Linked DNA regions of Homo sapiens. The protein of the gene in region 1 purifies or fractionates together with the protein of each later gene. This does not show direct contact. Each region holds a gene or a part of one and is shown in the gene's direction. Other genes may lie near its edges.

What was found.
Region 2: the proteins of KATNAL1 (region 1) and DIAPH3 purify together in Homo sapiens (tandem affinity purification; one large-scale study listed by IntAct). This does not show direct contact.
Region 3: the proteins of KATNAL1 (region 1) and TUBA4B purify together in Homo sapiens (tandem affinity purification; one large-scale study listed by IntAct). This does not show direct contact.
Region 4: the proteins of KATNAL1 (region 1) and KATNIP purify together in Homo sapiens (tandem affinity purification; one large-scale study listed by IntAct). This does not show direct contact.

Annotation. Positions count from the first base shown.
Region 1 is NC_000013.11:30,226,099-30,234,106, reverse strand, and holds part of KATNAL1 (katanin p60 ATPase-containing subunit A-like 1), read left to right. Parts: intron 1-2,634; coding exon 2,635-2,793; intron 2,794-3,512; coding exon 3,513-3,639; intron 3,640-6,560; coding exon 6,561-6,695; intron 6,696-8,008. UniProt on the Homo sapiens protein: Regulates microtubule dynamics in Sertoli cells, a process that is essential for spermiogenesis and male fertility. Severs microtubules in an ATP-dependent manner, promoting rapid reorganization of cellular microtubule arrays.
Region 2 is NC_000013.11:59,987,552-59,995,559, reverse strand, and holds part of DIAPH3 (protein diaphanous homolog 3), read left to right. Parts: intron 1-2,976; coding exon 2,977-3,087; intron 3,088-3,373; coding exon 3,374-3,492; intron 3,493-4,285; coding exon 4,286-4,402; intron 4,403-8,008. UniProt on the Homo sapiens protein: Actin nucleation and elongation factor required for the assembly of F-actin structures, such as actin cables and stress fibers. Required for cytokinesis, stress fiber formation and transcriptional activation of the serum response factor.
Region 3 is NC_000002.12:219,261,034-219,269,041, forward strand, and holds part of TUBA4B (tubulin-like protein alpha-4B), read left to right. Parts: intron 1-5,487; coding exon 5,488-5,533; intron 5,534-8,008. UniProt on the Homo sapiens protein: Tubulin is the major constituent of microtubules, a cylinder consisting of laterally associated linear protofilaments composed ofalpha- and beta-tubulin heterodimers.
Region 4 is NC_000016.10:27,548,841-27,557,451, forward strand, and holds the start of KATNIP (katanin-interacting protein), read left to right. Parts: upstream 1-1,303; 5' UTR 1,304-1,330; coding exon 1,331-1,337; intron 1,338-4,773; exon of another isoform or gene 4,774-4,793; intron 4,794-8,611. Other genes in the region: GTF3C1 (general transcription factor 3C polypeptide 1), read right to left, coding at 830-1,050. UniProt on the Homo sapiens protein: May influence the stability of microtubules (MT), possibly through interaction with the MT-severing katanin complex.

The DNA of each region.
Region 1 (8,008 bases):
GGATATCCACCACCTTTAACATTTGTCTTCATGCTAAGAACATTCAAATTATTCTCTTCTAGTTATTTTGAAATATACAAGAGACTATTGTAAACTATGGTCACCCTACTGATCTATCAAGCTGTGCTCATTAATCAGCCTCTCTTAATTCTCCCTTGACCCCTACCCTTCCCAGCCTCTGGTAACCACCAGTCTATTCTGTCTTCATGAGATCCTTTCTTAGCTCCCACAAATGAATGAAAACATGTGATATGTGTCTTTTTGTGCTTGGTGTATTTCATTTGACATAACGACCTCCACCTCCATCCATGTTGCTATAAATGACACGATTTTATTCTTTTTATGGCTGAATAGTATTCCGTTTTGTATATATACCACATTTTCTTTTTCCATTCATCCATTGTTGGGCACTTAGGTTGATTTTGTATTTTGGCTGTTGTGAATAGTGCTGTGATAAACACAGGAGTGCAAATAATTCTTCGACATATCGATTTCTTTTTTTTTTTTTGTATATATTCCCGGTAGTGGAATTGCTGGATCATATGGTAGATCTGCTTTTAGTTTTTTGAGGAACCTCCACACAGTTTTCCACAGTGGCTCCCACCAACAGTATAGGAGCATTCCCCTTTTTCCATACCTGACCATCATCTATTATTAGCTATCTTTTTGATGAAAGCCATTTTAATTGGAGCGAGATGATCTCATTTTGGTTTTAACTTGAATTTCTCTAATGATTAGTGATGTTGAGCATTTTTTCATGTATCTATTGGACATTTGTATGTCTTCTTTTGAGAAATGTCTATTTTGACCTTTTGCCCATTTTAAAATTGGATTATTTGTCTTTTTGCTATTGAGTTGCTTGAGCTGCTTATGTGTTCTGGTTACTAATCCCTTGTCAGATGGATATTTTGCATATATTTTCTCCCATTGTGGGGGTGTCTCTTTGTTGTTTCCTTTGCTGTGCAGAAGCTTTTTAGTTTGATATAATCTATTTATCTGTTTTTGCTTTGGTTGCCTGTGCTTTTGAGGTCTTACACAAAAAAAATCTGCCTGGACTGATGTCCTGTAGCATTTCCCCAGTGTTTTCTTCTAGCAGTTTCATAGTTTGAGGTTTTTAACCTATTTTGATTTTATTTTTGTATATGGTCTTTAATCCATTTTGATGTTTGTAAATGGTGAGAGATCAGCATCTAGTTTCATTCTTCTGCATATGGCTATCCAGTTTTTCCAGCAACATTTATTGAAGAGACTGTTCTTTCCTTAAGGGATTTTTGTAATGTGGCAGATTAAAGTATATTTGTATACCGAGGGGAAAGAGCCAGTAGACAAAGAGATACAGGAAAGAGAGAAATTAATTAAAGGAGTAATGTCATGAGGAGGTGAAGTTTATAAATATCGTACAGTAGCTATAAACAGCTGCTAATGTTAGAAATTAACTCCTATAGGAGGTGGCCACATTAATGGCATTACAGGATGGCCCTCTCAGAGAGCATGGAAAAAGGCATCGGAGAAATAAGAACTTTGCTCTGGTTATGCCTATAGCATCAATTGGTCGTTTTCATGGTTTTTAAAATCTCAACCTCATGCAAAGTTGAGGGCTCCCTAACAAAGCAAAAAAATATTTTTGTAAAACTAGTGTTTCAAATTTTAGTGATTCCTGGTTGATCTGTGTTAAAATTCTATAGCTAGAAAAGCATTTGGACAGTTTCTGAATTTGGAGTTTATGAAACTTTGACATACACATAGTTTTCAAAGCCTAAATCCCCAGAAGCTTGTCAAACCAAAGTAGCAATTGGATCAGAATTCCTCTTAAGGAATCACCAGGTATTATGCAAAAAATTTAGTGTGAGCTATGTATTTAAACTCTATTAAAAATTCTGGAAGAAAATAATTATTTAAGAACCCATTAGTTTTTAAGACTAGAGAGTTGGATTCTTTGAATAATTTTTATTCTTCACTGATTTCTTTTTATAGAATACTTTTATGTTTGTTTTCAAAACTAAGAAGTAACTGAAGTTTAGTTTTTATTCTGTACTGGTTCTTTCATCACTATTACTATTTTATATAAGCTAACGCATTAAAATGATACAAATCTTGCTAATTTGATTATGTTTGAATTACCACTGGATTTTTTACTGTTAACCTTATTAACTCATAAATGGGTCTTTATTTTTTACTGAAAGCTGTGTATTATAAATGCACTGTGGAAGATAGGTTCTGTCCCTTATAGAGGGTAAAGAATGTGTAATTCTGCCACATGTGATAGAAAATGTCTTATTTTTATTATGTGTAAACAGAACAGTTGCTTTTAAGCAGTGCTGAATATTATATGTATATGTCATATGCTAGGTTCAGGAAACTGAGATTATATCTAAATATATGAGAAACTTGTTTGTTGTCTAGTCTTTTTGTTAGGTTATCTCTGACTACCTCTGGCTTGAGACATTTTGTGAAATTTCTTCATTTTTTCTAGCTATAAAATAATACTCTTACTAAATGCATCATGATTTTACTGTGACAATTTTGAGTTTATCTTTTGATGGAAAAATCTCAATGTACATTAATAGCTGATGATAATTTATAAAAAAATTTTTTAATCTGATAAATCATTTAATTTGTCTTTTGAAATTTCAGGGTGTACTGATGGTTGGACCCCCAGGCACTGGTAAAACTATGCTAGCTAAAGCTGTTGCCACTGAATGTGGTACAACATTCTTCAACGTTTCGTCTTCTACACTGACATCTAAATACAGAGGTGAATCTGAGAAGTTAGTTCGTCTGTTGTTTGAGATGGTGAGTGACGATATATTCAGATTTCAAAGTAGTGTGTGTAGGCCTATGATGCCCCCATAAATCAGTTCTGTCCACCTGGAATCTTTTTTGAAAAGGGCAGTGTAGTTCTATTTTAATAGTTCTTGACACACTGATGAGAATTGGGGTGATGGGTTTTGTGGGGTAGTTGGTGTATCTTCAGTGTATCTTTTTCTTTAAGGTAAAGCAAGGCCTTTTGGCATCCTGTCCACTCAGGGTGGAAGAAGAGACTTTGGTCGTATATGTGGGTTGACTGGTATTTCTGGATCTCTAGGGAGCTGATGGAACAGAAGAATATTTTCATATGTATTTTAAAAATCAGAGTCTGACCCGTCATTAAAGTTTATTCCTTTTTCATATGGGATTTGCAGTAACTTAAGAATGTATATTTGAGGATTGAGGTTGATTTATTTTTGAAAAATTTTTCCATTATGGAAATTTCCAGATATGAAAGTAGAAAGCATAGTACAATGAACCCCTATGTATCTATCACCCAGCTTCACCAGCCATATAACCTTTATTTTTAGAAATTTCTTTTTTCTCATGGGAATGATTGATTTAGCCTTTGCCATAACCAGATGATGGCATTAAAACAGTGAGAAGTTTCTGCTCTCTTTTGCCATTGTTTTAAAAGATTTTTTTAAATACTCCAATTGTTTTATGAGATTATTGAATGATTTCTTTAAAATATTTTCATAAAGGCTAGATTTTATGCCCCTACCACGATCTTCATTGATGAGATAGATTCTATCTGCAGTCGAAGAGGAACCTCTGATGAACATGAGGCAAGTCGCAGGGTCAAGTCTGAACTGCTCATTCAGATGGATGGTAATTGATATTTAATTATTGTTTCAAAACTCTCATTTTTAAATATTTTGTGTAAACTCATAATCAATGGATGGATTAGAAGGCAGCCTGAGTTTAATTATTTGTTCATTCACCCATTTATTTGTTCATTTGTTCATGCACTCAGAAAGCATTTCTTGCATACTTGTTAGAGATCATGCACCATTTCAGATTCTGAGGTTACAAAGAAAAAGGCTACTATGGCCTTCAAGGAGCTTACTGTTTGGAGCAAAGTTTCTGGAGGCATGATCTAGAGTCCTAGGGATCTTTGAGACCCTTTAAAGAATCTGCAAGGTCAAAACTATTTTCATAGGAATATCAAGTCATTGTTTGCCTTTTCTTTTTCACTCTCATTCTCTCACAAGTGTACAGTAGAGTTTTCGAGAGGCTGTAAGACGTAGGGTATCATAAAAAGAAAGCAGAAGCAGATATGAGAATCCAGCTTTTCTCTAGATAGACATTAAAGAGATTTGCAAAAATGTTAAAAAAAAAAAAAAAAAAGCCCCTCTTCTTTTTTTTAATATTTTGGAAAACATACTTTTCATAAACATATGTAAATAAGTAATGAATTTATCATTATTTTTAAGTGAATTAATATTTTTAAATTTCAATTTTAGGTTTTTTCCATACAATTTACCCATGCACCATCTATTTTAAGTTTTAAAGATATTGATAGATACACTCCACACACAAAAAAGCTCTTTGGGGTTCTCAATAATTTTTTTTGTTTAAGGTTCAGAGTCTTGCTGTGTTGTCCAGGCTGGAGTACAGTGGTGTGAACACAGCTCACTGCAGCCTTGACCTCCTGGGCTCAAGCAATCCTCCTGCCTCAGCCTCCTAAGTAGCTGGGACCACAGGCACATGCCACCACATCTGGCTAAGTTTTATTTTTTGTAAAGACAGGGTCTCTCCATGTTTCCCAGGCTGTAGTTGAACTCTTGAGCTGAGATGATCCTCTGGACTCAGCCTCTCAAAGTGCTAGGATTATAGACATGAGCCACTGCACCCAGCCTCAGTAATTTTTAAGAGTATAAAAGGGTCCTGAGATCAAAAAGTTTGAGAACCACTGATCTGGATGGGAAGCAGGCAACTGATCAGATGAGTATAATACATTATGGTACATTCTGGCGTAGAAGTAAAGTCTGGGTGCAGTGGAAAACACAGGAGAGGCACCACCAAGACCAGGGGAGTCATGGAAAGAGATAGCCAAGTTGGACTTTGAAGCATTGATAGGAGTTATCAGGACAGAGAAAAAGGGCCCTGAGGAGCCATAGAAGGAAAAGGGTTATGGGCTCAGAGCTGCTGTTTAGAGATAAGTTAGCTGTGTGGTAGACAAGAGGCCGTTCAAGCAAAACATTAGAACAGATAAAATACATTAAAAAATATCCAGGGTGAGGGACTGAGTGCAATGGCTCATGCCTGTAGTCCCAGCACTTTGGGAGGCTGAGGTAGGAGGATCACTTGAGGCCAGGAGTTCAAAACCAGCCTGGTTAACATAGCAAGACTTTAACGTAGCAAAAACTTTAAAAAGTAGCTGGATGTGGTGGCATGTGCCTGTAGTCCCAGCTACTCAGGAGGCTGAGGTGGGAGGATAGCTTGAGCGCAGGAGTTTGAGGCCACAGCGAGCTGTAATTGTGCCATGGCACTCCAGCCTGGGCAACAGGGCAAGAACCTGTCTCATAACAACAACAACAACAAAACACCAACAATATCCAAGTTGTGTTGTTTCAAAACAGTCACGGTTATTCATCAACTGTGGATACTTACTGAATACTTACAATGTACTATGAGACCCTTCCCTCAGTGAGTTTACCATGTTAACTTTTGCTAAAGTATGAGAGAAAGGAATGAGTATGTTTTATTTTTGAAGTGGGGTATAGGAGAAAACATTAGGTGTTTAAAATTGGAAAAGGAAATCACTGAATACAAATTTAGTCAGCTGAATTTCATTGAGGGATATTTGTGACTATTGTTGATTATTAGTTGGACAGCTTGATTCTTTGTCATAATGACCGAAGTAGGAGTTTCATAATAAGAAAATATTATATGTTTCAGTGAGCTGAGATCATGCCAGAGCACTCCAGCCTGAACAACAGAACCAGACCTTGTTTTTTTAAAAAATACTGTATTGAACTAGGTTGCTTTAAGTCCACTAGCACTTTATTATGCTAGACTAGAAAGTCTTATCAATAAAGTTTATGGGGTTTTTTTATCTTTTATTTCTCACTACATATTTTCTAAAGTTTCTGTTGTGTGACCTGAAATTTTTTATTCTAAAATTTTAATTCTGAAAAGGAGACACTGTGTATATACATGTAGTTGGTTTGGTTATTTTTATCTGTGATTACTGGGTTCATTCTTAAATGTCTTATTTATTTTTTACAGGTCACTTAAAAGTTTAAAGGACAACATCATGGAAATATAACCTGTCTTTCAAAATTATAATTGCATGCTAGAATATTAAGTAAATGTGAACCCTCTGTTTTCACTTCTTGAGAAAATAGATTAAAAACTAAAATAAAATTTTTGCGGAACTTTATGATTTAAAAGAAATAAGAGGAATAAAACAGAGCCTAATCTCCCATACCTTTTCTTTTAGGAGGAAAATACATTCATTTTCTTACAGAAAAATGGATGTTTTTATTGGATTAAAATCCTGCACTAGGTTGCACAAGAAAAAAAAAAGAAAGAAAAAAAAAATCCCACACTAGGTTATGTGAATTCTTCTACTTCTTTGTTTTGTAGTTATCTGTTAGTGTGTCTGGTTTTGCCACCACACAGAGGTCAGGACTGCACTTTCTTTATCGTTGATTCTGCCACTTTGGCTAAAAGAAATGTTAATTGAATGAAAGAATAAAGAGTTGTAAGAAAAACACTATCTTTTCCTCCCTTACTGTGTATAGGAGTTGGAGGAGCTTTAGAAAATGATGATCCTTCCAAAATGGTTATGGTATTGGCTGCTACTAATTTCCCGTGGGACATTGATGAAGCTTTGCGAAGAAGGTTAGAAAAAAGGATATATATACCTCTCCCAACAGGTATGATGTCTTCTCTATTTTGAGCTTTCTGTTACTTTTTGTTACCTTTCCCATGTATCTAAATCTTTATTCCATTGCCATTCTGCTTAAAGAAGTTTATAGCATCACAAAATTAATTTGTAGTAGATGTGAACACAGGCCACAGTACTCTATTGAAATTTCTTATGTTTCAGAGAAATTCTTAAGTTTGGAACAATATTCATCTTAATAAATATGGTAGCACTTTTAAGTTTTCACTTTTCAACTTGAAGTTTTTTTGGATCTTTTTCAGAATATGCTGTTTTGGAGAGAGAGAGAGTGTGTGTGTGTGTGTACACATATTTATTTATTTATTTTGTGACACAGTCTTATTCTGTTGCCCAGGCTGGAGTGCAGAGGCATGATCTCAGGTCACTGCAACCTCCACCTCCTAAGTTCAAGTGATTCTTGTGCCTTAGCCTTCCAAATAGCTGGGATTACAGGTGTGTACCACCACACCCAGCTAATTTTGGTGTTTTTAGTAGAGACAGGGTTTTGCCATGTTGTCTAGGCTGGTCTTGAACTCCTGGCTTCAAGTGATTTCCCGCCTCGGCCTCATAAAGTGCTGGGATTACCGGTGTGAACCACCACGCCCAGCCTGGAAAATATAGTTTCATCCTGTTAATAAATGCTGAAATATCCATGAATGAATGTTTTCTTTTTATTTTGAGGTAAAATTTACATACAATGAAATGTACTTAAGTATATAATTTGATGAGTACAAATCTGTACACCTGTTTAATCAATACCCTAATCAAGATGTAGGGCATTTCTATCATCCTGTAAAGTTCTGTGTGCCCCTACCAGCTAATCCTCCAATAGGCATTCACTGTACGTGATTTTTATCACCATAGATTAGTTCTTTCTCTTGTTAAACTTCATATAAATGGAATCGTGACTGCATGTACTCACTGTGTCTGGCTACTTTCACTTGAGGTTCATCCATGTGATCACATGTATCAGCAGCTTATTCCTGGTATGATTATACCACAATTTGTTTATTCTCCTTTTGATTGGTATTTAAGTTATTCCTAGTTTTTTGGCTATTATGAATAAAGCTGTAAACTTTCTGGTACGTATCTTTTTTATGGATGAATGTTTTCAATTCTTTTGGATAATATAAGAAAAGAAAAGATGGGTCATAGGGTAGGCATATGTTTAGCTTTTATAGGAAATACCCAAACTGTTTTTCAGAATGGTCATACCATTTTGTATTCCATCATCAATAAATGAGAATTCAAATACTTCCATATCCTTGCCAACATGTGGTGTTGTCACTATTTTAATTTCAGTCA
Region 2 (8,008 bases), about 30 Mb from region 1:
CAGTGCCTGGTATATAGTAGGCATCAATAAATAGGCTTTGAAGGAATGAAGTATGTGAGCCAATATCGGGGTAAACTGCTTCTGATGCCCTAAGATGGAACCTTTAGTTAACTAGATGCTCTCAAGAAGATGGAAGTTCCTTGTTTTCTTACCCTTATTAGCGCAGAGGGAGGTTGGTTTTGTAATGTATCATAACGATTTCTGTAACATGCAAATTAAGAGAGATCATATGCTACATTTTTGGAACATCAACTAGAGCACAGAGATTACTTCCTTATGACGAACATCTCACTTTTGGTTCTCATTTTTTGAGTATGAGTATCTCCAGTTGACAGAAGTTGTAGGTAGTCAGTAATTGTTTTTTTAATGAATGAATGATTCTAATATACATCTCAATCAGAATTTTGAAAGTAGGATTTATCCTATTCTCTAAAACCTGTTGCTCTTCTTACATTTTGTATGTCTGCTAATGGTACCACTTTCTATCTAGTTAAATAACAAAAGTGGGAGGCCTCTTGTAAATGCTTTTCTTCTACCTCATTCTATCAATTTTTCTTCATATTTCAAATGTTTGAACCTTCCTCCTTGCTCAAAAATTTACTTCTACAACAGCTTCTGAACTTGAATCTATTGCCTCTGTTATTGTGCCCCTGTTGCATAAAATTCCTTATGATTTTCACTATTTCTGGTTGAATCTGAATTTTGTGACTTGACACACAAGGCTATGCCCTCTCTCCTGTCTCCTTGTTCAACCTCATTTCTTGACTTCTTCCCGTTACTCCCCTTTCTACCTTGACAAACCGCTCATAAAATTTGAATTGCTTGTAATTTAAAGGTTCCATGTCTTTGAACATGTTAATTCCTCGGCTTAGATCTTCCTTCTTCACTTCTTCATCAGGCCATTTTATTAATCCTTTAGTTAGTACTTTATTCAGCTGTCTTAGTTCTCATTTAGCATCTCCATATTCCCATTATTTACCAAACATATTTCTTACAGTATATAGTATATTTTTATCATTTTACTGATATATCTTCATTGGACAGGCAAAATGTCCTGTTAACCTTTGTAGTTTTTTAACGTTTCTCGATATCTCTAGGCGTTGATTGATATGGCATAAATGCTGATTGACACTCCCTTCTGCTGGTATGCTAAATTATTGTGAAATTGTGTGATACCGCAGGTATGTATCTCATTATGTATAAAACCTACAAGGAACTCCTTGGTCTTTACCTTGATTATAGAATTATTTATCCATAAAGAAACAATGCATTTTAGTGCATACCTATGTGTATTCACAGACATGTTTGCATGATTTAAATTAAATAGATTGTAAGCCATGCTAATGGCAAATTATGATTAGAATTGGGAAGCAATTTTATAAATTTAACTTGAATTCATTATTTCAATTTAATTTCCTATTTTTTTTCTTCTATGGAGAATCACCTTTTTGAATAGTTCCCGGAAATAATTTGGATTATCCTTTCCCTTATTTCTAAATTTCATGCTACTGTTGTCTACATATATGTATTTTCCATTTAGGTAATATTTGCTGCTAGTTTTTGTGTTCCTTGTTTTTGCTACTTTCTGTGAGTTATCTGTAATTTGTGTTTTTCTAGAAGCCAGGTGACTGAGTTTGATTTAGTTTCTCTGAATGTAGAGAAGCATTATTTGCTCTTTGAGATCTTTAAAAATTATATGGCATTGCTGAAGAAAACATTTGTGGGTCCTGGGTAATGACTGGCAAGGGGGTGGAAGGAAAACATTTTAAACTTGACTTTTTGACATGAACTGGTTACAGCTGAATGAACATGTACTGGAAAGGTAGATTCTGTTAAGTTTTTTTTTTTTTTTTTTTTAAGTATGTTTCTCTTCTTCCTCTCTCTTCTGACATATTTCCCATTCCCACTTTAAACAACCTTAAGTTTCGACAGTAGAGGCATGCTGGTCAGATTTTAATGCTTAGATATCAAATATAACAATTACTATATATTTCAAACAGCAGGAATTGAGAATTCTGTTGGTGTCTTACTCCAAAACAGCATTTTAAATTCATATAAACCTTGCCTTAAGGGATGGAGAAAAGACAATTTAGGGAACAGCATGAGGTTAAACATATTGATCAGTAGTCCAGTAGTTCTTGCTAGACTTGGATAGAATGTAGACTTTAGAAAAATAGTATTATCAACAACAACAAAGAATGCTTCTCTAGAAAGACTGTCTTTTGTTTCCATTTTATGGATTTTGGAGGATGAAAGATATATTTTAGCCAGGGATGAAAAAAGTGGAGAAGTTGAAAGTTGAAGTGTTAAACATGAGCTGAAAATTTTGTGATTTAAAAATTTTTATCATTTAAGCTATATATTAAAGGATTTAGTGAGCTCTGTTATTTATTTCTGGTTAAAACATAGGGTAATTTTGAATTTTTGCCAAAGTATGAGAACCATTGCCTGATAAATTAACTTCTAGAAATTAATTATACAGTGTTTATTTATAACCTTGTTAACTAGAGTTAAGACCCTTGTTGACCTTGAAGTCTTTGGGACTTTGAGTCTCTCTTGATGAATGGAAAACTATTTTATTATCCTATTTTAGGTAAGTGTTATCTATCCAATAGGTATATTGGATATGTTCAATTTCTGTTGTATGTGTGTAGAGTGATATTATTGGACAAGAACTTAGCTTTTGGTTACAAGTGTTTTTTTTTTTTTTTTTCTATTTTTTTATGGAGCAGTAGTAACGGCTAATATTTTTCCATCTTCCTTTCACCTCAGTAACCCTCAAATAAATGAGAAATAAAAAACGCCACTGAAACTTTATTTCTTCTGTAGTTTATAACTGACTGAAATATTTTGCTTACAAATTGTTTTAATAGGAAAGATATTTAATAATGCTGGAACAAAACCTTGAAGTTTACGTTTGTTACTCTTTCTTTAATGTTGGAAACCCAGTCTGTCTCACTGTTTGATCTCTTGTAGGTAGCTTGTATGCAGCTCATCAATGCCCTGGTTACATCTCCTGATGATTTGGATTTCAGGCTTCACATCAGAAATGAATTTATGCGTTGTGGATTGAAAGAGATATTGCCAGTAAGTGCCCTGCAGTCTCCTTATTAATATTTAAATTAAAAGAGTACTTGAGTAGGGGGAAATTTAGATAAATTACCTTGAAGAATAATTTATCTGTGGGAAAAGGCTTGAGTTAAAAAATCTATTTTTGAAATATAGATGATAAGATTCGAGTGTTATTTAACACTTTAAATGTTCGAATGCTATAAATCAAGTTGAATGGTTGGTTTATTGTTTATATGTTTTTTATTCTTTTGCATAATTAAAAACAAAATCATTCATCATAATTTCTATTTCATATCTCTAGAATTTAAAATGCATTAAGAATGATGGCCTGGATATCCAACTTAAAGTCTTTGATGAGCATAAAGAAGAAGATTTGTTTGAGTTATCCCATCGCCTTGAAGATATTAGAGCTGAACTTGAATATCCTTTTGTTCTGAAGTCTAGTCAAATCATATATAAAATTATTGCTAAATCCAAAATACTCAGCCACAAATATTTAGCTCATTTCTATATAAACAACATGAAATCAAACCTTCATGCATCAGAAGAATGTTATTATTTTATTAATTTGTGTGTTTTTATGAATACACATATATGTAAGCGTATGCTGCAACTAACAAATGGATTCTGTAGATTGGTTTCTTATATGTATGTGTGCAATCTATTTTGTTTTCTTTTTATATTTGACACTTTTCCTTCTACTTAGGGCTTTTTAGCATTAGGAATAGGGCAGCCTTAGTCACTGGCTGCTCTTTCCCTGCATCTTGGGTGCATACTCATGGGTCGCATGTTAATCTGTGGGTCTGCAGACGTCTGTGCTCCTCATGAGACCCAACAGGTTCCTATCCTCACCTGGGGCTTCTTCATGGTAGATAATTAACCTGACCACCAGCTCTGTTGGTCAGGCAACCTTTAGAATTCAACACAGTATTCATAGCCAGCTTCCCTACTACCTTTGTTCCCAACAGCATCTGTGCTTAGGGGAGACAGATTAGTTGGAACTGATTGTAGAAGGGAAGTCAGGAAGTGTCAGGTTAAGTCACCATTTCCAGAGTTTTTCCACTACCCTCAATCCTAAATATCTGTATTTTATGTTGAATATATAAGATGCCTGTATTACAGTTCCAAAACCTTACAGGACAAATTCTGTCATATTATTATAGTTGTTTGGTGTAGAGTATAAATAAATCCATATATTCCTTAATCAACTCACTGAAGCATATGATGTTTACAACATGGTGTGGAGCACAGTTAAAGAAACTAGAGCAGAGGGATATTTTATTTCTATTCTTCAGCATCTTTTGCTGATTCGAAATGATTATTTTATAAGGTAAGAGGAAGTTGTATTCTAATGTTTTCTTTCACTAATAAAAATCTATTAATTGTGAAATTCACATCATATTTGCCTTTGACAAGCAAATGATTTTTATTTTTGTCATAACACTGATTCATAGAATGTGTTGTTTTCTCTGGGCATATATTTAGGTAGACGATGGTAAAATGATATTACTATTACTTTTTAAGCTCCTGTGGATTCCTGGTTACAACCTTTCATCTGAATAAAAATGCAAACTAGCAACAAATTACTAGTTTATCATGTGACAGATAATATTTTCTAGTTATTTCTTAGGCAGTAGGAATGATGTTGATAAGTTTCTTCTTATAAGTTACATGAAGGGCACTAAACATTGCTTTTATTAGTGTTTAAGTAGCTGGCAAGTCTTAATAATACAGTTGCGTTTAATGTTGCTAATATATCAAAAAGCCAGACAAATGGCTTTTAAAGATTGATTATATCCTAGCCATCTGAGGTTAACAAATTATTTATCTTTCTTTTAACCTCATCTACATTATAATGTGACTAAATATGGAGATTAGTGCCTAACTCACTGGGTTGTTAGGCAGATGAAATATGGGAATGTGGGTAAAAGTTCTAGCCAAACCCTTGGCATATGGTGTATGCTTAGTAAATGTTCTCTATATCTACTTTCCATTTCTATTACTGTTTTATGGTGGAAGCTGAGCTCTTTGAATATAAAATCATTTTGTTGCCACCAATTTAGGTTTGCTGAAATTTCATTCTCTTATACTTTGGGTGTTTTTTTCTTTTCTACTTAATTTCAAGTAGAAGAGTTTTTTAGACAAGCTTCATTCAGGCTGTGTCCTCGGGGTAACATCAGAGGGTATGACTCAGTGATTTTTTGATGTACCTAACAAGCAAGGAGGAGACCCAAAATGTTAAAACTTTAGGTTTTTCAGGATGAGGATAGGACATGCATCAAAATTACTCTCTTTGTAGCCAGAAATCCCACTGATATTCTAAAATATGAGTTTAGTAACTGATTTTTTTAATTTGCTCCTTTCTGATATTTTATTAAAAATAAACCAGTTTAAATATTTATATTATAAATGCTAGATTAAGAATTGCTAATTTAGATTTTTAAAATATCATTTGTACCATGCTGTTTATGATACTATATTTCTACTCCAAATTTACTTAAAAATGACATTGAAACTTCTATTTACTCTAAAGTAAACTCCATACATTTTTTGATCTGTGTGTGGTCAGTCCTGTCGTCTTCTGGAAGTTTGATGCTGTTTGAGTACCCAAGAATTTAAGACTGTTGTTTGTTTTCAATGGTTTGAACATGCCTGTAGTCCTGCAGGGGTTTTATCATACTTATGACTTTGATCCCTTCATCTGTGCCCCAAGAGAGCATGTGGTTGTATCTAGCTTCAAAACAGATTAAAAAACACAACTGTTTTGGGTTATGTTCAGGTGATACTATCATTTGAGTTAAATCAAGAGTCTTGGAGAAAGATTAAATTGTGGCATTACCAAAATGACATTAAGGCATAGAAATTTAGATATTTGGCCATCTTTTGAGTATGAACTTTTACATTTGATGTTCACCTATGTTAATTCCTTCTTTGGCTCTTTAAACCCCGGGTATCTTGATTCCAGATATGGTTGCCACAAAGGCAGTGTTCTTCCTGTGACTGCTAGACTCAAGACAACTCCATCAGTTTTTTCCTCATGTTTCCAAACTCTCCTATTTATTATTGTTGTTGTTAATATTTCTTTAAAAAAATTTCTTAAAAAAATTCTTAAAAATATTTCTTAAAATATGCTTTTATTCCAAGATTGTGTCAGAATTGTGATAATTTACATATATTTTTGTCATGCATTTATTTTTTAAAATTTTATTTATTTACATACAGTAAAACTTACTCTTGTTGGTGTACACGTCTATGAGTGTTGTTTTTTTGGTTTTTACCTTCATTTTTTGGTTTCATCTACCTCAGAAGGACCTCTATTTTACCTTTTCAGCAATCTTAGATAACCTGTAACATTTTTTGTTTAATGAGCTCTTTAAACTACTTTTGATACGAACACACATAATTTTTCTTTTTCTTTTTACAAACAGTAGATTGTTCTATTGCAGAATGTTAAATGTTCTCATTTGAAAGAATTGGTGGATGGAAAAATTAGAATCTTTTTTCATTTCCACTTTTGGGACAAAAGAAAGTTTGACAGAAATGGAATTCGATTGGAGAATATATGTCAAAGGCAGCCCCTTTTCCCTGGGAAAAAGGGAGGGGGCTGAAATACAGCAAGATAATTGGGTGGAGAAGATCAAATTCAGTTTTACACCAAATAATTAAGGCTTACCATGTGTAAAATACCACGCTAGTTAAATGCGCATGGGAGATAATTTCTGATATTTGTTAACAATACCACAGAGAAAAGTGAAGATTTCAAAAACTCCTCCAACAAAAATAGCATTTTGTCAGTAATGACAACTTAATGTTCATCCCTTAATTAAGTTATTCACATATTCCTCAGACACATTTACTACCTCACCAATATTGCTCATGGAGATTATTTTCTAGATTGACATTTCTGGAATCCAGAAATGTTGTGTATTATTCTTTGATAGTATTGCCTCCCCAGTGAGTTTTTGCATGAAATTTCAGCCACATTATAGATGAACTCATAATTGGACATTGTGGAGTTGAGGAAAAACTTACTAAAATTATGATTTCTTAAAAAGATGACATGAAATAGCTTGTGTTGTTAATTTAAAACATTTTCATTTTAAAAACATTAGAATAATGTTGAGTAGAAAAGAAATACATCATCTAGATTTTTAAATGTAATAGATGTAAATGTGTTTAAATGTATGTACCACGTGTAAATGTGGTTATTATGGCAGAAATATTTGGGGATGGGAGATAATGTCTTGAAAGAACTTGAACAAATAGAGGCAAGCATAGATTAACACTTTTGATTTGTACCCAGGAACCGTTTCTTAAACATTTTCACTCTATGACAGTTAATGATCATTAGTCATCTTTGCTAGTGTTAAGCTGTAGTGGATTTTCTTCACTGTAATAGATGGTTTATTAGGTGTAAGGTAAGTAGGTCAAGAGCAGTGGGTCATAGTTTATGGAAAGGAAAGTCTAAATGGCTTGAGGGACCCACACTTTAGAATTTAGAGAGGAAAAGTATGTTAAAAGTCATTAAGGAAAGAAGTTCTAGGGGATGATCTGAGATGGAGGACTGTGCTTCATTAGAATAGTACCCAACCTGTTTATCACTTTAGTTTGGTTTTGCTTATAAAATCTTTTATCTGTTTTATTTACATTTATTAAATCTTTTTTTTTTTGTCCCTTTCTGAGACATCTTTCTTGTTCCAGTTTTCTCTTTAATCCTCTGTACTAATGATGAGTGACATCATTTTTCATATTACCGGCTTTCCAAAGTGAACTAATATTTGGCATAACCAAAAAGGTACAATATCTAAAAGCACTAGGATATTTTAAAACCAGTCTTCTCAAGAAGAGATGATTATGCTTTACAAGAGGAAATATTTCTACCATTAGCCTTATTTCACTAACAAGTTTCTGGCCAAAAAGAAAGCAATAAATACCT
Region 3 (8,008 bases), on another chromosome or scaffold:
TCTCTCTCCTCTCCCTCTTTTAAGTTAGAATTTTTTGGCTGCAAATAATGGAAAACCTAACTTATCAATGGCTTGAACAATGAGGGCATGTATTATCCCACAAGAAATCTGAGTATAGGGTCTTTCCAGGGTTGATTCAGTCATGTCACCAATAACTCCAGTGTTTCTAGCTTTCTGCGCTGTCATCCTCAAAGAGCGGGTGACATCTTCCCTCAGGAACACAAGATACAGCAGCTCTAAGTATCATGTCCTTATATGACTCTGTCTTAAGGCAGGAAATGGGGGGCTTCCTCCCACATCTGTTTTTATCAGGAGAAAAACCTTTCCTTGAAGCGCCCTAGCAGACTTCCCCCTTCTATCTCACTAGCTTTTGCCTAAACCAGTCACTGGAGGGAGGGAGTTAAATGGCCATGGATGGTTTGGACTAACCTGTACACACCCCTAGGTCTGGGGGAAAGCTGTCTTCCTCAAGCAAGTGCAAGGGTGAATACTCAAATAAAATCAGGACCTTGCTAGTGAAGAATTGGGCAGGGGCAGGCAAGGCTGTTGAGAAGCTCTGCCACCACCTACACTAGTATGTCCTTCACTTTACTGCCAACCCAGCTACTTCTCACCACCCCCTACTACCATCCCGTTATTCCTAGATGCCTTCAGCAGCCTCTGAACCAGCTTCCTGCCTCTAGGCTTGAAACCCTAATGCAGTCTCCACACAGCAGCTGCAGTCATCTCTCTGAAACACAAGCTAGGCAATGACGCTTGTTTCAAACCCTCCTGTTACACTTATATAAAAGCCATTCTCCTTCCAAGGCCCCTCCACCTCTATGATCTCATCTTGTAGAGCTCTCTCCTTTCCTCACTCTGGGTTTTTGGACACACTGGGCTAGTTCCTACCTATGATTGTTTGCACTTATTATTCTGTCTGTCTGGAGAACTGGTTTCCAGATCTTGCCTCGCTGACTCCTCACCATTCAGCCCTCAGTTCAAGTGTCACCTTCTGGCCGGGTGTAGTGGCTCACGCCTGTAATCCCAGCACTTTGTGAGGCCGAGGCGGGCGGATCATGAGGTCAGGAGATCGAGACCATCCTGGTTAACATGGTGAAACCCCATCTCTACTAAAAATACAAAAAATTAGCCTGGCGTGGTGGTGGGCGCCTGTAGTCCCAGCAACTCGGGAGGCTGAAGCAGGAGAATGGCGTGAACCCAGGAGGCAGAGCTTGCAGTGAGCTGAGATCGTGCCACTGCACTCCATCCAGCCTGGGCGACAGAGCGAGACTCGAGACTCTGTCTCAAAAACAAAACAAAACAAAACAAAACAAATATCACCTTCTTATAGAGTGGCTTCTGTTCAGTCTAAAATAGCAGCCCCTGCATATCTTTCTGTTCCATTATCCAGCCTTGTTTTCTTCACATGCTTATTGCTATCTGGAATGTTCTTGTTTGTTTATTGTCTGTCTTCCCCATGAAAATGAAAGCTCCATTTTATTTCTTTTTGAGACAGGGTCTTACTGTGTCACCCAGGCTGGAGTGCAAGTGGCATGATCACGGCTCACTGCAACCTTGACCTCCTGCGCTCAAGTGAGCCTCCCTCCTCAGCCTCCCAAGTAGCTGGGGCCACAGGCATGTGCCACCACACCCAGCTAATTAAAAAAAAATTTTTTTTTTTGTGGAGGCAGAGTCGCATTATGTTGCCCAGGCTAGAATGTAAGCTTCTTAAGAGCATAAACTTGCCAGGCACAGTGGCTCACACATGTAATCCCAGAACTTTGGGAGGCCAAGGTGGGCAGATCACCTGAGGTCAGGAGTTCGAGACCAGCCTGACCAACATGATGAAACCCCGTCTCTACTAAAAATACAAAAATTAGCCAGGCATGGTGGCATGCGCCTGTAATCCCAGCTACCTGGGAGGCTGAGACAGGAGAATTGCTTGAACCCGGGAGGCGGAGGTCGCAGTGAGCCGAGATAGCACCACTGCACCCCAGCCTGGGCAACAAGAGCAAAACTCCATTCCCCACCCCCCAAAAAAGCATAAACTTTTGTGTTTATCACTGTATCCCTGGCACCTGAAATGGTGCTTGGCATACAGCAAGCACTCAATATTTGTTGAAGAAATTAAGAGTATTCATGGCCTCTTATGTTTTAATCTAGATGCATTAAAATGCTTTAAAAATCTCAGTCTTGGCCGGGCACAGTGCCTCACACCTATAATCCCAACACTTTGGGAGGCCAAGGCAGATGGATCATCTGAGGTCAGGAGTTTGAAACCAGCCTGGCGAACATGGTGAAACACTGTCTCTACTAAAAACACAAAAATTAGCGGGGTGTGTTGGTGCATGCCTGTAGTCCTAGGTACTCGGGAGGCTGAGGCAGGAGAATTGCCTGAACCCAGGAGGAGGAGGTTACAGTGAGCCAAGATCACAAAACTCAGTCTTTTCATTCTGCTTTACATAAGACAGCTGACTGCCATTAGGATAGTTTTCTTTTTGGAGTTGGTGATACCTAGGTTGACTCTGAGAGTCCAACTCCCAAGGCCAGTTGGGAGAAGTTTCAGTGCTACACAAGAGAGTTTTGAGCCCAGTGGGCCCTCTGGGCCCCATATCACTCCATCTGGACAATAATTCCTGAGGTCCATGGTTTCATGGGCCAACCCAGTAGAAGGCTGAGCTTTCTTATCTTTGATATGTTAAGTGGCTGGGTCTCTTCTTTGGGCCTCTTTGTTCCAGGTGGGAGACAGAAGAGTTCTAACCTTCAGTCTGTAGCCAAAGCCAGAGTTAACCAACTTGAGATCATTCCCTAGCTTACTGGGTTGACAGGGTCTCTGAAAAAGTCCCCTGTTTCAACTGCACTATGTAACACAGTGGCTGAAATTTCACATTAGCAACTACTTCCTGGATAGGGTTGCTAAATAAAATACTTTTATTTGCTAAATCTGGCAGACCTAGTCCTGGTTTTGGCTGCTATCTGGAAGAGGGACTGAACTGTACAACAGTCCCCCCTTACTTACAAAGATATGTTGTAGGGCCCCCAGCGGATGCCTGAAATGGCGGATAGTACTGAACCTTATGTACTGTTTTTTCCTATACATGCATACATATGACCAAGTTTAATTCATAAATTAGGCACAGTAAGAGGTTAAGAACAACAATAGGCCAGGTGCAGTGGCTCATGCCTGTAATCCCAGAACTTTGGGAAGTCAAGGCAGGCAGATCACTTGAGGTCAGGAGTTCGAGACCAGCTTGGCCAACATGGTGAAACACCATCTCTAATAAAAATACAAAAATTAGCCAGGCGTGGTGGCATGTGCCTGTAATCCAAGCTACTCAGGAGGCTGAGGTGGGAGAATTGCTTGAACCCAAGAGGCAGAGGTTGCAGTGAGCTGAGATCATGCCACTGCACTCCAGCCTGGGTGACAGAGTGAGGCCCTGTCTCAAAAAAAAAAAAAAAAAGAACAATAATGATATAGAGAAATAAAGCAATGATAGTAATATGCCAGCATCACTGCTCTTGAGCGGTGGGGCTGTTATGAGGTAGAATAAGGGTTACATGAGCAGAAGCATCGCCACAGTCGATCTGATAAGGGATCCGGCTACTCAGTGGCTAATGGGTAGGTAGTGTCAACAGTGTGGATACGCTGCACACAGGGATGTTCTAGACATGATGGAGTAGGATGGCACTAGATTTCATCACACTACTCAGAATGGCGTGCAGTTTAAAACGTATACATTGTGTTTTTCTGGAACCTTCTCTTTAATATTTTCAGACTGTGGTTGGCTGCAGGCAACTGAAACTGCAGAAAGTGGCTAATGGGGGGCTACTGTGGTGTGATTTCCAGGCAACATGAGGGCCCATTTGAGGCTAGTGGCCATGCGTTCGAAACATCAGTCAGCATGGTTCTGGATTTTTCTATGGCCACTGTTTAGCTGGGTGAGTGCAGACACAGAGCTGGGGACAAAACAAATTTAACCAGGGTTCTGGTTTAGTCAAACAAGGATGTTGAAGCTAGTGGGAGGCAAGACAGTTGAGGGGTACAAAAGGGAGTGACCCTGGCTGGCCATGGAACTGAAGACTGGGAGGAAGGAGATAAAGACCGAGGAGGGGCTGCTGTGCACACTCTGCCATGTGGAAAGAGGGGAAGCAGAGCCCGAGTCCCAGATAAATCTTAATTCCAGCATTAATTAATCCCCATGTGACCTCAGGCAGGACACTAGGGATTTCAATTTCCTTTCCTTCATCCTGGGAAAGGGAGGCCCTGCCTTGCCTACCTTACAGAGTTGTTGAGGGATTCAAAGGAGGTACGGAGAGAAGGTGCCTTAAGCATAAAGCAGACTAGGCGCAGGGGCTCATGCCTGTAATCCCAGCACTTTGGGAGGCTGAGGCAGGTGGATCATCTGAGGCCAGGAGTTTGAGACCAGCCTGGCCAACATGGTGAAACCGTGTCTCTACTAAAAATATAAAAATTAGCCAGGCCTGGTGGCAGGTGTCTGTAATCCCAGCTACTCAGGAGGCTGAGGCAGGAGAATCGCTCGAACCCCGGAGGTGGAGGTTGCAGTGAGCTGAGATTGCACCACTGCACTCCAGCCTGGGCAACAGAGCAAGACTCCTTCTCAAAAGAAAAAAAAAAAGATGCATAAAGCAGGATACAAATGCTAGAGACTAGCCTTTTTATTTCAGAATTTTGCCTAAGACTATCGGGAGACTCCTTTTCTGGGGACATAAGGCCAGGCTAGAGCAGCAGTGACTTGCCATGGCCTAGGAAGAGACATTTAGGAAGTGCCTTGAGGCCCTGCTCATCCTCTTGCTTTGCCCTTGGAGAGCAACAGCTGTTTTGGACTAAGCACTTAAGAAAGGTTACCTTGTTAGTACCTCGTAATACTACCTCTCCCCATTCTCCAGAGAGAGAAAAAAAAAGAAGTTTTAATTGCTAGTAGCTATTAGAGGTGGGATTAAAACCAAGCTCTAGGTCGCTTGTTCTATGATATTCTGAGTTTCCAGGCAGGATGTCCTGAGGCTTGATCTCTTGGCCGAGGACTCATTATTTCTGGATCATTGCAGAGATCTTCTTAGTCCCACCCACAGTCGACTTACAGCCCTCAGCAACCCTAGGGCAGGGGAGTGCAGGGGTTTGATGGGTGGGGGCGGTGCTGGAGCTCAGGGTCTTGATTTCTAAATCATCTTCCACCTGTGAAGTGCAGGCTGTGCCACCAGGAAATGGGATTGCGTGACTGACAACAGATACCATGTACCCAGAGGCCTGGATACCTGTGTGGAGTTACTAGCCCTGGCCCCTCCTCTGCCCACCTCAGCTGGCTCCCCTGTTTGGGTGCAGGCCCAGAGCTTGCCTCGTACTCTGTGACCAAGTCAACAGGCCCTGCCCTCCCAGGCCGTTTCTAACAACATCCACCTGCTGAGAGCCACCCAGCGAGTATAAGGAGGAGGCTGGCTGGCCGCTGCAGGCCTCTCACAGATCTATCCCTGCTCACTATCCTGCAGCAGACAGAGAGACAAGACCCCAGCCAGCCCCTGTCCAGGCAGCATGGTGAGTAGAAGGGGCCTTGGGGGGACTGAGCATGCAAGTGAGGGTCCCAGTGGGCCCAAGATATCTGGCGTGAAGGTACCTTGGGAGTCCACATGGTGATGGGGCTACAGTATGTGGCGAGGTGGGGAGAGGGAAAGAGACTTCCAGATGTGGCTGTGGCCCCCAAATGTGCAGGTGTGGGGGGCATCACAGGGGGTAGGGAAGGAAAGTTTAATGGTAACCAGGTTGTGGGGCTGAGCCTAGGCTGAGAAGCAGGGCTGCTGAGGGGGTCTGAATTTAGGTGTGGGGAGTGTGGGGGAAGCAGGACTTGAGCAGAAAGTGTAGGCGATTTCCTCTGCTGGCTGAGGATCTCCAGACCCTGGGCCTTGCCACAGGTTCACTGTTGGGCTCTGATCCCACCTTCCCACCATGGGGACACATCCTCCATGGAAGCTTCTCCCCTCTGGTTCCTCCCTCCACCCTGCCCATCTGCTGTGCCTTTGTCTGACCTCTCATGTCAGTTACAGATCAGTGGGGAGAAGAAGGAGGAGGGAAAAGGGGGTGCTCCCATCTGTCAAGAGCTGGCTGTGCCTGGGGCTTATTTGATATCTTTTACCCACCTCCCTACCAGGCAGGATAGAAGAACAGTTAAGAGCATGGTTGGTGCCAGGCCATCCCTGCTCTAAATATTCTTGGTTTTGCTCATGGCCTTGAGCAAGCTACTTGACTTCTCTGAGGGTCGGTTTCCTCATCTATAAATTGGGGGTAATAAAACTACCTACCTAAGGTGAATGTGGTAAAGATTAAATGAGATAATGTGTATAAAGTGCCACCTTCACCTGGCACCTTATTAGTGCTTAATAAGCAGAACTAAGCAATGTAACAACACAGGCCGCCGGCTATGAGATTCTTCTCTTTCTACAGTCATGAAAAAGGTGCTAGGGAAGCTGAGGTGAAATGACTTGTATTGGATCACAGAGAGATGGGGGTTTGAGGCCAGGTCTGTGTGACTCCAGAGGCTGAGTTCTTTTTTTTGTTTTTTTTTTTTTGAGACGGAGTCTCATTCTGGAGTGCAGTGGCGCAATCTCGGCTCACTGCAACCTCTGCCTCCCGGGTTCAAGCGATTCTCCTGCCTCAGCCACCCAAGTAGCTGGGACTACAGGCGCTTGCCACCACATCTGGCTAATTTTTGTATTTTGAGTAGAGACAAGGTTTCACTATGTTGGCCAGGATGGTCTCAATCGCCTGACCTTGTGATCTGCCCACCTCGGCCTCCTAAAGTGTTGGGATTACAGGCGTGAGCCACTGCACCCGGCCAGGGGCTGAGTTCTTTGCCCCAAAACTGCTGCCTCCAGTGTGAGACATCATTCCCAGAGGGGCCAGAGACACCTTGCATGGGCTAGTAGTTCTGGGGGCCAGGACGATGTCTGGGTCTGTGGACAGAACTGGCTGGTCAGGCTCAGAGGTGCAGCACCAGGCAGGTGATTGGTGAGCCAAGGCAGCCCCAGGATTGGACCTGGGATTTCTCCTGTCCTTGAGGTCTCAGCTCAACTCATTATCTTTTTTTTTTTTTTTTTTTTTGAGATGGAGTCTCACTCTGTTGCCCTGGCTGGAGTGCAGTGATGCAATCTCGGCTCACTGCAACCTCCACCTTCTGGGTTCAAGCAATTCTCCTGCCTCAGCCTCCCGAGTAGCTGGGATTATAAGCATACACCATTTTTGTATTTTTAGTGGAGAGGGGGTTTCACCATGTTGGTCAGGATGGTCTCGAGCTCCTGACCTCAAGTGATCCACCTGCCTTGGCCTCCCAAAGTGCTGGGATTACAGGCTTGAGCCACTGCGCCCAGCCTCAATTCATTACCTTCTCTTACTATGACATCAGGGATTGAGGGTGGGAAATTGGAAGGGGAACCCAACATGCATGGCACACCCTAGTGTGTGTTAGGCAGTGGGCCAGGCACTTTGCATGCATTCTTTCATTTAATTCTCATAGTTTTTCTAGGAGGGGCTCTTATTATTGTCTACATTTCAAAAGGAGAACATTGACAAAGAGGTTAAGATTTTTGCTCAAGACAAGTAGAGAAGTAATTGGGCTGGAATACAGATTATTTATGGATTAATCTCAGTCATCTAAAAATCATGAAAAGTCAGGCCTTTGTGTTATATAAAAATAGTCAATGAAGTGTTACATTTTTGGAGAAGTCATCCTCATTAAACAATTAAGAAATATTTCAGGAATGCAAAAAGGTATAAATAATAACATGATAGGCTGGGCGGCGGTGGCTCATGCCTGTAATCCCAGTACTTTGGGAAGCCAAGGCAGGTAGACTGCTTGACCCCAGGAGTTTAAGACCCACTTGGGAAAGATGGCGAGACCTGTCTCTACAAAAAAATTTAAAACTTAGCCAGGCATGGTGGTGCATGCCTGTAGTCCCAGCTACTCGGGAGGCTGAGACAGGAGGATCCCTTGAGCCCAGGAGTCCAAGACTGCTGTAG
Region 4 (8,611 bases), on another chromosome or scaffold:
CTTCTAGAATAGATTCTTAGAACAGCAATGTGGCCGGGCGCCGTGGCTCACGCCTGTAATCACAGCACTTTGGGAGGCCGAGAGGTGCGGATTGTCTGAGGTCAGGAGTTCGCGACCAGCCTGGCCAACATGATGACACCCCATACCTACTAAAAATGCAAAAATTAGCCGGGCGTGGTGGAACATGCCTGTAATCCCAGTTACTCAGGAGGCTGAGGCACGAGAATCGCTTGAACCTGGGAGGCGGACGGAGGTTGCAGTGAGCCAAGATCGCGCCACTGCACTCCAGCCTGGGCCACAGAGAGAGACTCTATCTCAAAAAAGAAAAAAAAGAACAGCACCTCACCCATGAAGTCCCTGATAAATGTCAGCTTTTAGCATTATCGCTAATTGTCCTGATACGCAGATCTCGAGTTGCCCTAGGCTATCTGCACCGAATGAATATACCATGAGGGTCTGTTGATCTCAGGAGTCTCCAGTCTGGCTCTAAAGTGTCTTTCCTGCTCTAATCCTATCCTCCAATGTAAAGGAAACATTCTTTTAAGCCTGAAGAATATCCCCAATCCTGTTCGCCATTACCCCAAAACACACACAGGGACAAAACGGGACATCACTAGATTCTCCCCCTCCCCCCGCCAACTCCATCGGACTCCAGGGCCCTGCCAGGCCTGAGGGACCCCAGATTAGCCTTACCGCCGTGCCCCAACTCAATCAACAGGCCTCCGGTACTTGCACAGCCCCACTCCATTCCCCCGCCCTGCCCCCAGCTCCATCAGCCCCCGGGCCCTGCGCCCGCCCGCCCGCCCGCCAGGCCAGGCCGCCCGCTGACCGGTCCTGGAGCTGTAGGTCGGGTCGCTCCCGAGGCTCCTCATAGAAGCTGATGCCCGGGTGCGTGGCGAGGGCCCGCCAGAGAAACTCCTGCGTGCAGGGTTCCAAAGGCAGCGGGAAGGGCGGCACTCGCGTCTCCAGCCGGCTCCACAGCGCTGGCAGACACAGGCCATCGAGCCCCTCCAGAGCGACTTCGTCCAACAACGACTCCAGCGCGTCCATTGCTACTTCAGTCGGCGGCGCCCGGGGCGCATGCGCAACGCACCGCCAAGGGCCTTGGTCCATCGCGCCTGCGCACAACGATCCGGGGCCCGGGGAGGTGGGTCAGACCCAGGGTTCGGAGGAGGAGTTCCAGCGCGCCGGCATGACGTCACTCCCCGGGGGCGGGCTCAGTAAGTGGAGCTCCACCGTCATTGGTCCGGGGCCCCGCAGTAACCAGGGGAACTGCAAACAGTGTAGAGGCCGCTTCCGGTTCGAGCTCCCGGAACCGCCGCCTCTAGGGATGGACGGTGAGTGTCTGTGGGCCCCTCCGGGAGGTCGGGCTGTTATTCTCCCATCCCTCCCGACCGCGCTTTGGGCAGAATCCTAGGCCATGAACCCCTGGACCACCACTTCCTGACCCAAGGGGGTCTCCGAAATGAGGGATAGGGAGGCTTAGTGGTCTGGAACGCGGAGGAGAGCCTGGGGGAGTGGTCAGTGCTGTGACCATTCTGCTCGGCTGTGGTCGTGAAGGAAACCGGTACTGGCCGGGAGCTCAGTGAAGGGATGTAGGGTGGGGAAGGAGAAGTAGAGGTCTGAGGAGGGTCTTGTGAATGTTGGGATGTGGAACTGTCGGATTTGGGAGTTGATATGAAAACAAGCTTGATCGTGGGAGTGCAATCGTCAGGTGCTGGGAAAGGGAATTGGTGTGGGGGGTGAAGGGAGTTTAGGAAATACTCCCTTTCTGTGCCTTGGCGTTAATAATAATAGCTCCCTTTAACAAAGTGCTTTCCAGTACCAAGAACTCTGTAAGTACTCTTGGGCAACACCTCGCTAAGCTTCATACCAGCCTTTTGAGTTCAGCGTTGTTCCATTTTACAGATGATGAAACTGAGGCTCAGAGGTGTTAAGGAACTTGCCCAAAGTCAAACAACCAGCATGTAGCAGAGTGAGTGAGAAACCCAGACACCCTGTCTCTGGAGCTGAATTATGGAGCTTGAGATTTGGACCGGTTTTGAGGGTCCCTTTATTCCAGAGGTTGTAAATGCAGATGTCTGCAGAGGAGAGTCTAGTGAGCCGGATTGAGGCTGTAACTGAAAATCAATTCCTCACCTGAAAGGAAAGCTGCTCACCAAGCACCAGCTGATTGTCCTCTTGGGGTACTTCTCAAAAACAGGGTTGGCCAGTCACTCTGAAGGCCAGAGACAGCTTGTGGGCCCCCATTTAGGGATCCCTGATTAGAGTCATGGTATTGACAATTGGAAGCAAATGGAAAATAGGCTATTCTGATATCTCACTTTGCAGATGGGAAGACTAAAGTCTAGAGAGACTGGTAGGGTCTGGGCTAGAGTCCAGATCATTTTTCTAATTACAGCACTGTCCCTCACTTCTCGGGAATTTGTTCCTGGGGAATCCACATTCTTTTTATATTCACTGAATGTAGTGTGGAGAAAATGTTTTTAATTGAACATTCTGTCATATGCTTAAAATATATCTTTTCCCTTTGTACTTTAGAGGTACTATAAAATGTGCTTTACCATTTTGCCTTCTGGAAAGGTCAATGTAATGTTGCTATAGAACATCAGTCCTCAAACCTTTTAAGCCTTGGGACCCCTGTATGCTCTTACCTCAAAGAGCTTTGTTTATTTATATTTATGATATTTACCATATCGAAGATTTAAACTGGGAAAATCTTAAGATGTCCATTAATTAGTTCCTTTAAAAATAATAAAAATTGGGCCGGGCATGGACTCGTGCCTGTAATCCTAGCACTCTGGAAGGCCAAGGCAGGTGGATCACTTGAGGTCAGGAGTTCGAGACCAGCCTGGCCAACATGGTGAAACCTTGTCTCTACTAAAACTTAGCCGGACGTGGTGACACATGTCTGTAATCCCAGCTACTTGGAAGGCTGAGGCAGGAGAATCATTTGAAGCCGAGATCTTGCCACTGCACTCCAGCCTGGGCAACAGGGCGAGACTCTGTCTCAAAAAAACCCAATAATAATAATAATAATTGGCCAGGTGCAGTGGCTCATAATAATCATAATAATAATTGGCCATGTGCAGTGCCTCACACCTGTGATCCCAGCAGTTTGGGAGGCTGAAGTGGGTGGATTGCTTGAGCTCAGGAGTTCAAGACCAGCCTGGGCAACATAGCTAGACCCTGTCTCAAAAAAACTCCAACAACAATAAACCCATTACTTCTGAACATAAATAATATTTTTAATGGAAAACAATTACATTTGCCTCCAAAAAATTAATAGGAAGAGTAGCATTATTTTATGTTTTTTCAAGTTTATTCAATAGAAATAGAAAAAACTACTCTCATTTCTGCTTCAGGATTCAAACTGTTTTTTGTTATGCTGTTTTGGCTGGTGTGTATGAAGAAAATTTGGCCTCATACAAATATATAATTGGAGCAGAGAGAAACATTTTAATTGCCTTTTCAGATAACTGTAGACACTCTCCTTTCATACTATACAAAATTTAGCAAATGCCAGTTTCTTTTTTCTTTTTTTTTTTTTTTTTGAGAAAAAGTCTCACTGTCGCCCAGGCTGGAGTGCAGTGGCACGATCTCAGCTCACTGCAACCTCTGCCTGCTGGGTTCAAGCGATTCTCCTGCCTCAACCTCCCGAGTAGCTGGGATCACAGGTGTGAACCACCATGCCCAGCTAATTTTTTTTATTTTTAGTAGACATGGGGTTTCCCCATGTTGGCCAGCTGGTCGCAAACTCCTGACCTCAGGTGATCAGCCTGCCTCCATTTCCCAAAGTGCTGGGATTACAGACGTGAGCCACCATGCCTGGCCTGCAAGTGGCAGTTTTTTTTTTTTTTTTTTTTTTTTGAGACGGGAGTTTTGCCGTCGTTGCCCAGGCTGGAGTGCAATGGCCTGATCTCGGCTCACCGCAACCTCCGCCTCCCGGGTTCAAGCGATTCTCCTGCCTCAGCCTCCCAAGTAGCTGGGATTACAGGCATGTGCCACCACGCTCAGCTAATTTTGTACTTTTAGTAGAGATGGGGTTTCTCTATGTTGGTCAGGCTGGTCTCAAACTGCCAACCTCAGGTGATCCGCCCGCCTTGGCCTCCCAAAGTGCTGGGATTACAGGCATGAAGAACCATGCCAGGCCACAAGTGGCAGTTTCTTAAATGTTAGTCACAGTGTGTCATCTGAAGCCTTATAGGTGAACTTTTATACTGTGTTACATTAAAATCCATTGGTCTATCTTGCCCTTTCATTGGCTGCTTTACCCATATATGGTTTTATAACATCAGCCATTGGTCGTTTAGAAAATGTTGGTTCAGTGAGTTATGCAAATCTAAACGTTGACCTTTCAGATGCCATTATACGGTATTTAAAAAATCACATTTGTTAATATCACCACCTATTTCATTTTAAAAAGGAGTTTAAGTATTAGGAAACTATCAAACTCAAGGTAATGGAAACAAGTTTTCAACTTGTTTTCACTTGACAGCTTGAATTTTAACATTGGCAGCAAATATTGTCAGCTGTTTCCTTGAAGTGACAGACTCACTTATTTCATATTTGAGAAAATTTCTGCCAAATTCCCAAGACTGAATAACCAAAATTTGTCTATTATTTTATTTACTGCCATGTACTCACATTTAAAACAAACAAACAATTATTTTTATTTAAGAATGTCCTGATGGTTGGGTTCAGTGGCTCACGCCTATAGTCCCACCGCTTTGGGAGGCCAAGACAAGAGGATCTCTTCAGCCCAGAAATTCAAGACCAGCTTCGTCAACATAGTGAGACTCCATCTCTACTAAATAAATAAATAAAATAAATAAATAAATAAATAATAGTCAGGCATGGTAGCATGCACCTGTGGTTCTAGCTGCTAAGGAGACTGAGGTGTGGGGATCACTTGAGCCCAGGAGGTCAAGACCAGCCTGGGCAACTTAGTGAGACCCCATCTCTGTAAAAAGTAAAAAATTAGACAGGTATAGTGGCTCGTGCCTGTAGTCCCAGCCACTCAGGATCAGTTGAGCTTAGGAGGTTGAGGCTACAGTGAGCCATGACTGTGCCACTGCACTCCAGCCTGGGCAAAAAGACCTTGTCTAGAGAGAGAGAGAGCAGGGGGTGGGGTGGGGGGAGAGAGGAGAGAGAAAGGAAGGAAGGAAAGAAGGGAGGGAGAGGAGAGAGAAAGGAAGGAGGAAAGAAGGGAGGGATGGAAGAAGGGAGGGAGGAAGGAAGGAGGGAAGGTTTCTAGTACATTGTGGTAACATTGCCTTGATTCAGACTGCAAGCAGTTTTACCCACCATTGCTTTGTGTCATAAGTACAAATGTCAACACAGCCAGATGGGGTGGCTCACGCCTGTAATCCCAGCACTTTGAGAGGCCAAGGTGGGCGATCACCTGAGGTCGGGAGTTTGAGACTAGCCTGGCCAACATGGTGAAACCCTGTCTCTACTAAAAATACAAAAATTAGCTGGGCATGGTGGCACATAACTGTGGTCCCAGCTACTTGGGGGAGGCTGAGGCAAGAGAATCGCTTGAACCCAGGAGGCAGAGGTTGCAGTGAGCCAAGATCATGCCACTGTATTGCAGCCTGGGCAACAGAGTGAGACTGTCTCAAAAGAAAAAAAATTCAACACAGTGAAATACTCTTCAAATTATGATTAAAATACTTTTGTCTTTGTGGACCCCTCCTTCTCCCAGGATCTGCACCTTTGAGAAACATTGCTACAGTCCATTTTCAGGAAGGCTGCTTTGTGCCTTCTAATGAGCATCTCTGTACTTGCAGTCTTAGGACGTTATTGTAGCCTAGTAGAGGGGTATGTTCATTTTCAGATTGGCCCCCAAAAGGAAAAATTTATTCTCAGAAGTGTTTACCCTAGGGTCATATTTGACCTCCAAAGAATCCCATTTTCTGTTCTGATTTTTTAAACTTTGATTTACACTTTTTTTTTTTTTTTTTTTTTTGAGACAGAGTCTCGCCCTGTCACCCAGGCTGTAGTACAGTGGCGTGATCTTGGCTCACTGCAACCTCTGCCTCCCAGGTTCAAGCGATTCTCTTGCCTCAGCCTCCTGAGTAGCTGGGATTACAGGTGCACGCCACCACGCCTGGCTAACTTTTTTGTTTTTTGTTAGTAGAGATGGGGTTTCACCATGTTGGTCAGGCTGGTCTCGAACTCCTGACCTCAGGTTATCCACCTGCCTCAGCCTCCCAAAGTGCTGGGATTATAGCCATGAGCCACCGCACCTGGCCCTGATTTATACATAATTTTATAGGCACATACCTATTTATTGGATAAAGTGAAGCATACCTTATTGTGATTCTAACTAACTAGGTAAGCCAAGCCTGGCCTTATTAGAAAGATGTTTACTTCCTACGTTCACAAAAGCTTAAATGTCTAGCAGATGCCCTCCAAACTGGACTGTAATTTAGTTTATTCGGCATGTCTTAATCACCATAGCTTTTCACAACCCTTTCCCTGGCCTTTTGATTTTGACTTTGGGCAGGTCCTATCTGTTTCTGTGATGCAGTGTAATGTCCTTAGGTTTGGGGGCCAGATAGCCCTGGATTTGAATCTCTGCTGTACACTTTGACCTCTCTGAGCCTTGGTTTTCCTGTCAGTAAAATGGACATGATAATGAAGCCTACCTTGTTTTGTGGCTTCAATGAAACAATGCATCAAGTCTGGCATATAAAAAAATGTTCCTGGCTGGGCGCGGTGGCTCACGCCTGTAATCCCAGTACTTTGGAAGGCCGAGGCAGGCAGATCACCTGAGATCAGAAGTTCGAGACCAGCCTGACCAACATGGAGAAACCCTGTCTCTACTAAAAAAATGCAAAATTAGCTGGGTGTGATGGTGCATGCCTGTAATCCCAGCCACTTGGGGGGCTGAGGCAGGAGAATCGCTTGAATCTGGGAGGCAGAGGTTGTGGTGAGCCGAGATTGCGCCATTGCACTCCAGCCTGGGCAACAAGAGCGAAACTCCGTCTCAAAAAAAAAAAAAGTTCCTACAGCCAGGCGCGGTGGCTCATGCCTGACTTTGGGAGGCTGAGATGGGTGGATCACGAGGTCAGGAGTTCAAGACCAGCCTGGCCAAGATGGTGAAATCCTGTCTCTACTAAAAATACAAAAATTAGCCAGGTGTGGTGGCGGGTGCCTGTAATCCCAGATACTCGGGAGGCTGAGGCAGAGAATTGCTTGAACCTGGGAGGCGGAGGTTGCAGTGAGCTGAGATTGCACCACCGCACTCTAGCCTGGGCCAGTGAGTGAGACTCTGTCTCAAAAAAAAAAAAAAAGTTCCTATATAGTAGCTGTTGTTATCATTATCTGCAAATAGGCAGACTTATTCCACACAGTTGACAGAAGAGGGAAGCGTGCTGATGAAGCTCTCTAGCAGATGATAACTTTTGTAATTAGCACACTCTTTGCTTAAGAGAAAATCCAATGTTTGACATTTTTTATTCCATGAAGGTACATTGGCAGTGTGTGTTTTCTGCCTATGAAAATGTTCGCCTTTCTGTTAAAGTTGAATTTTCCCCAGTACTTTAAAAATATGAAATGGTTTAGGAAAAAAAATTCTATTTCATTTTCAAGGAACATAATAATTAGACAAAAGTTCAGCACATTGATATAATTAGAAAGGATTTGGAAGTTGTTCATTTGCTTTTCACTGCTCCCCTAGAGCAAATATTCAACATTTCCCTTGTTTATACTGTTCATTTGCTTAGCAAACTTTCTCAAATAATTAATAATGCCAAGATGATATTTAGCCTCACTTGTCCAAATAATCCCAGACTGCAAACAGGTGATGGTTGAATTAGGAAGGTTTTGCTGAGAGTACACCATCGGTTTAGCTGGTCTCTCCTGTCCTTGTGTGGTATTTACCTGGCTTCTTGGTGATTTGTCTGTTTCTCTTACTACTTAAACCCAGCAAAAAAAATAATAAAATAACAATCAAATGCAATAAAACAAAGCAAGCATTCAGCAGGTGAAATAAACATACATCCCATAGACTCTTTGTGTCTGTTCTGTTTTCTTCTTGTTCCAATCCTTCTATCTGATTAGTTTCTTTTCTCTCAGATTTTTTCAGAGTTCGTTCCTCCTGTCACTTTAACTTATAGGAAGTCGGCCCATAATGTTTTGCTTATTTTTCCTTATGAGATTCATTCCATGATTCAACATTTCAGTGCCTTCCGTGCATTGGAATTCAGAGATGCCAAAATGAGTAAGATTGAATCCAGGTGAAGGCGATATGGGAATTCATTGTACTATTCTTGACATTTTTCTGTGAAGTTGATTTTTTTTTTTTTTTTTGAGGTGGAGTCTCACTTTGTAGCCCAGGCTGGAGTACAGTGGCGCGATCTTGGCTTACTGCATCCTCCGCCTCCCGAGTTCCAGTGATTCTGCTGCCTCAGCCTCCTGGGTAGCTGGGATTACAGGCACATGCCACCACGCCCAACTAATTTTTGCATTTTTAGTACAGACGGGGTTTCACCATGTTGCCCAGGCTGGTCTCGAACTCCTGACCTTAGGTGATCCAACCCTACCCCTTGGCCTCCTAAAGTGCTACGGTTACAGGTGTGGATTTTTTTTTTTTTTTTTTTGA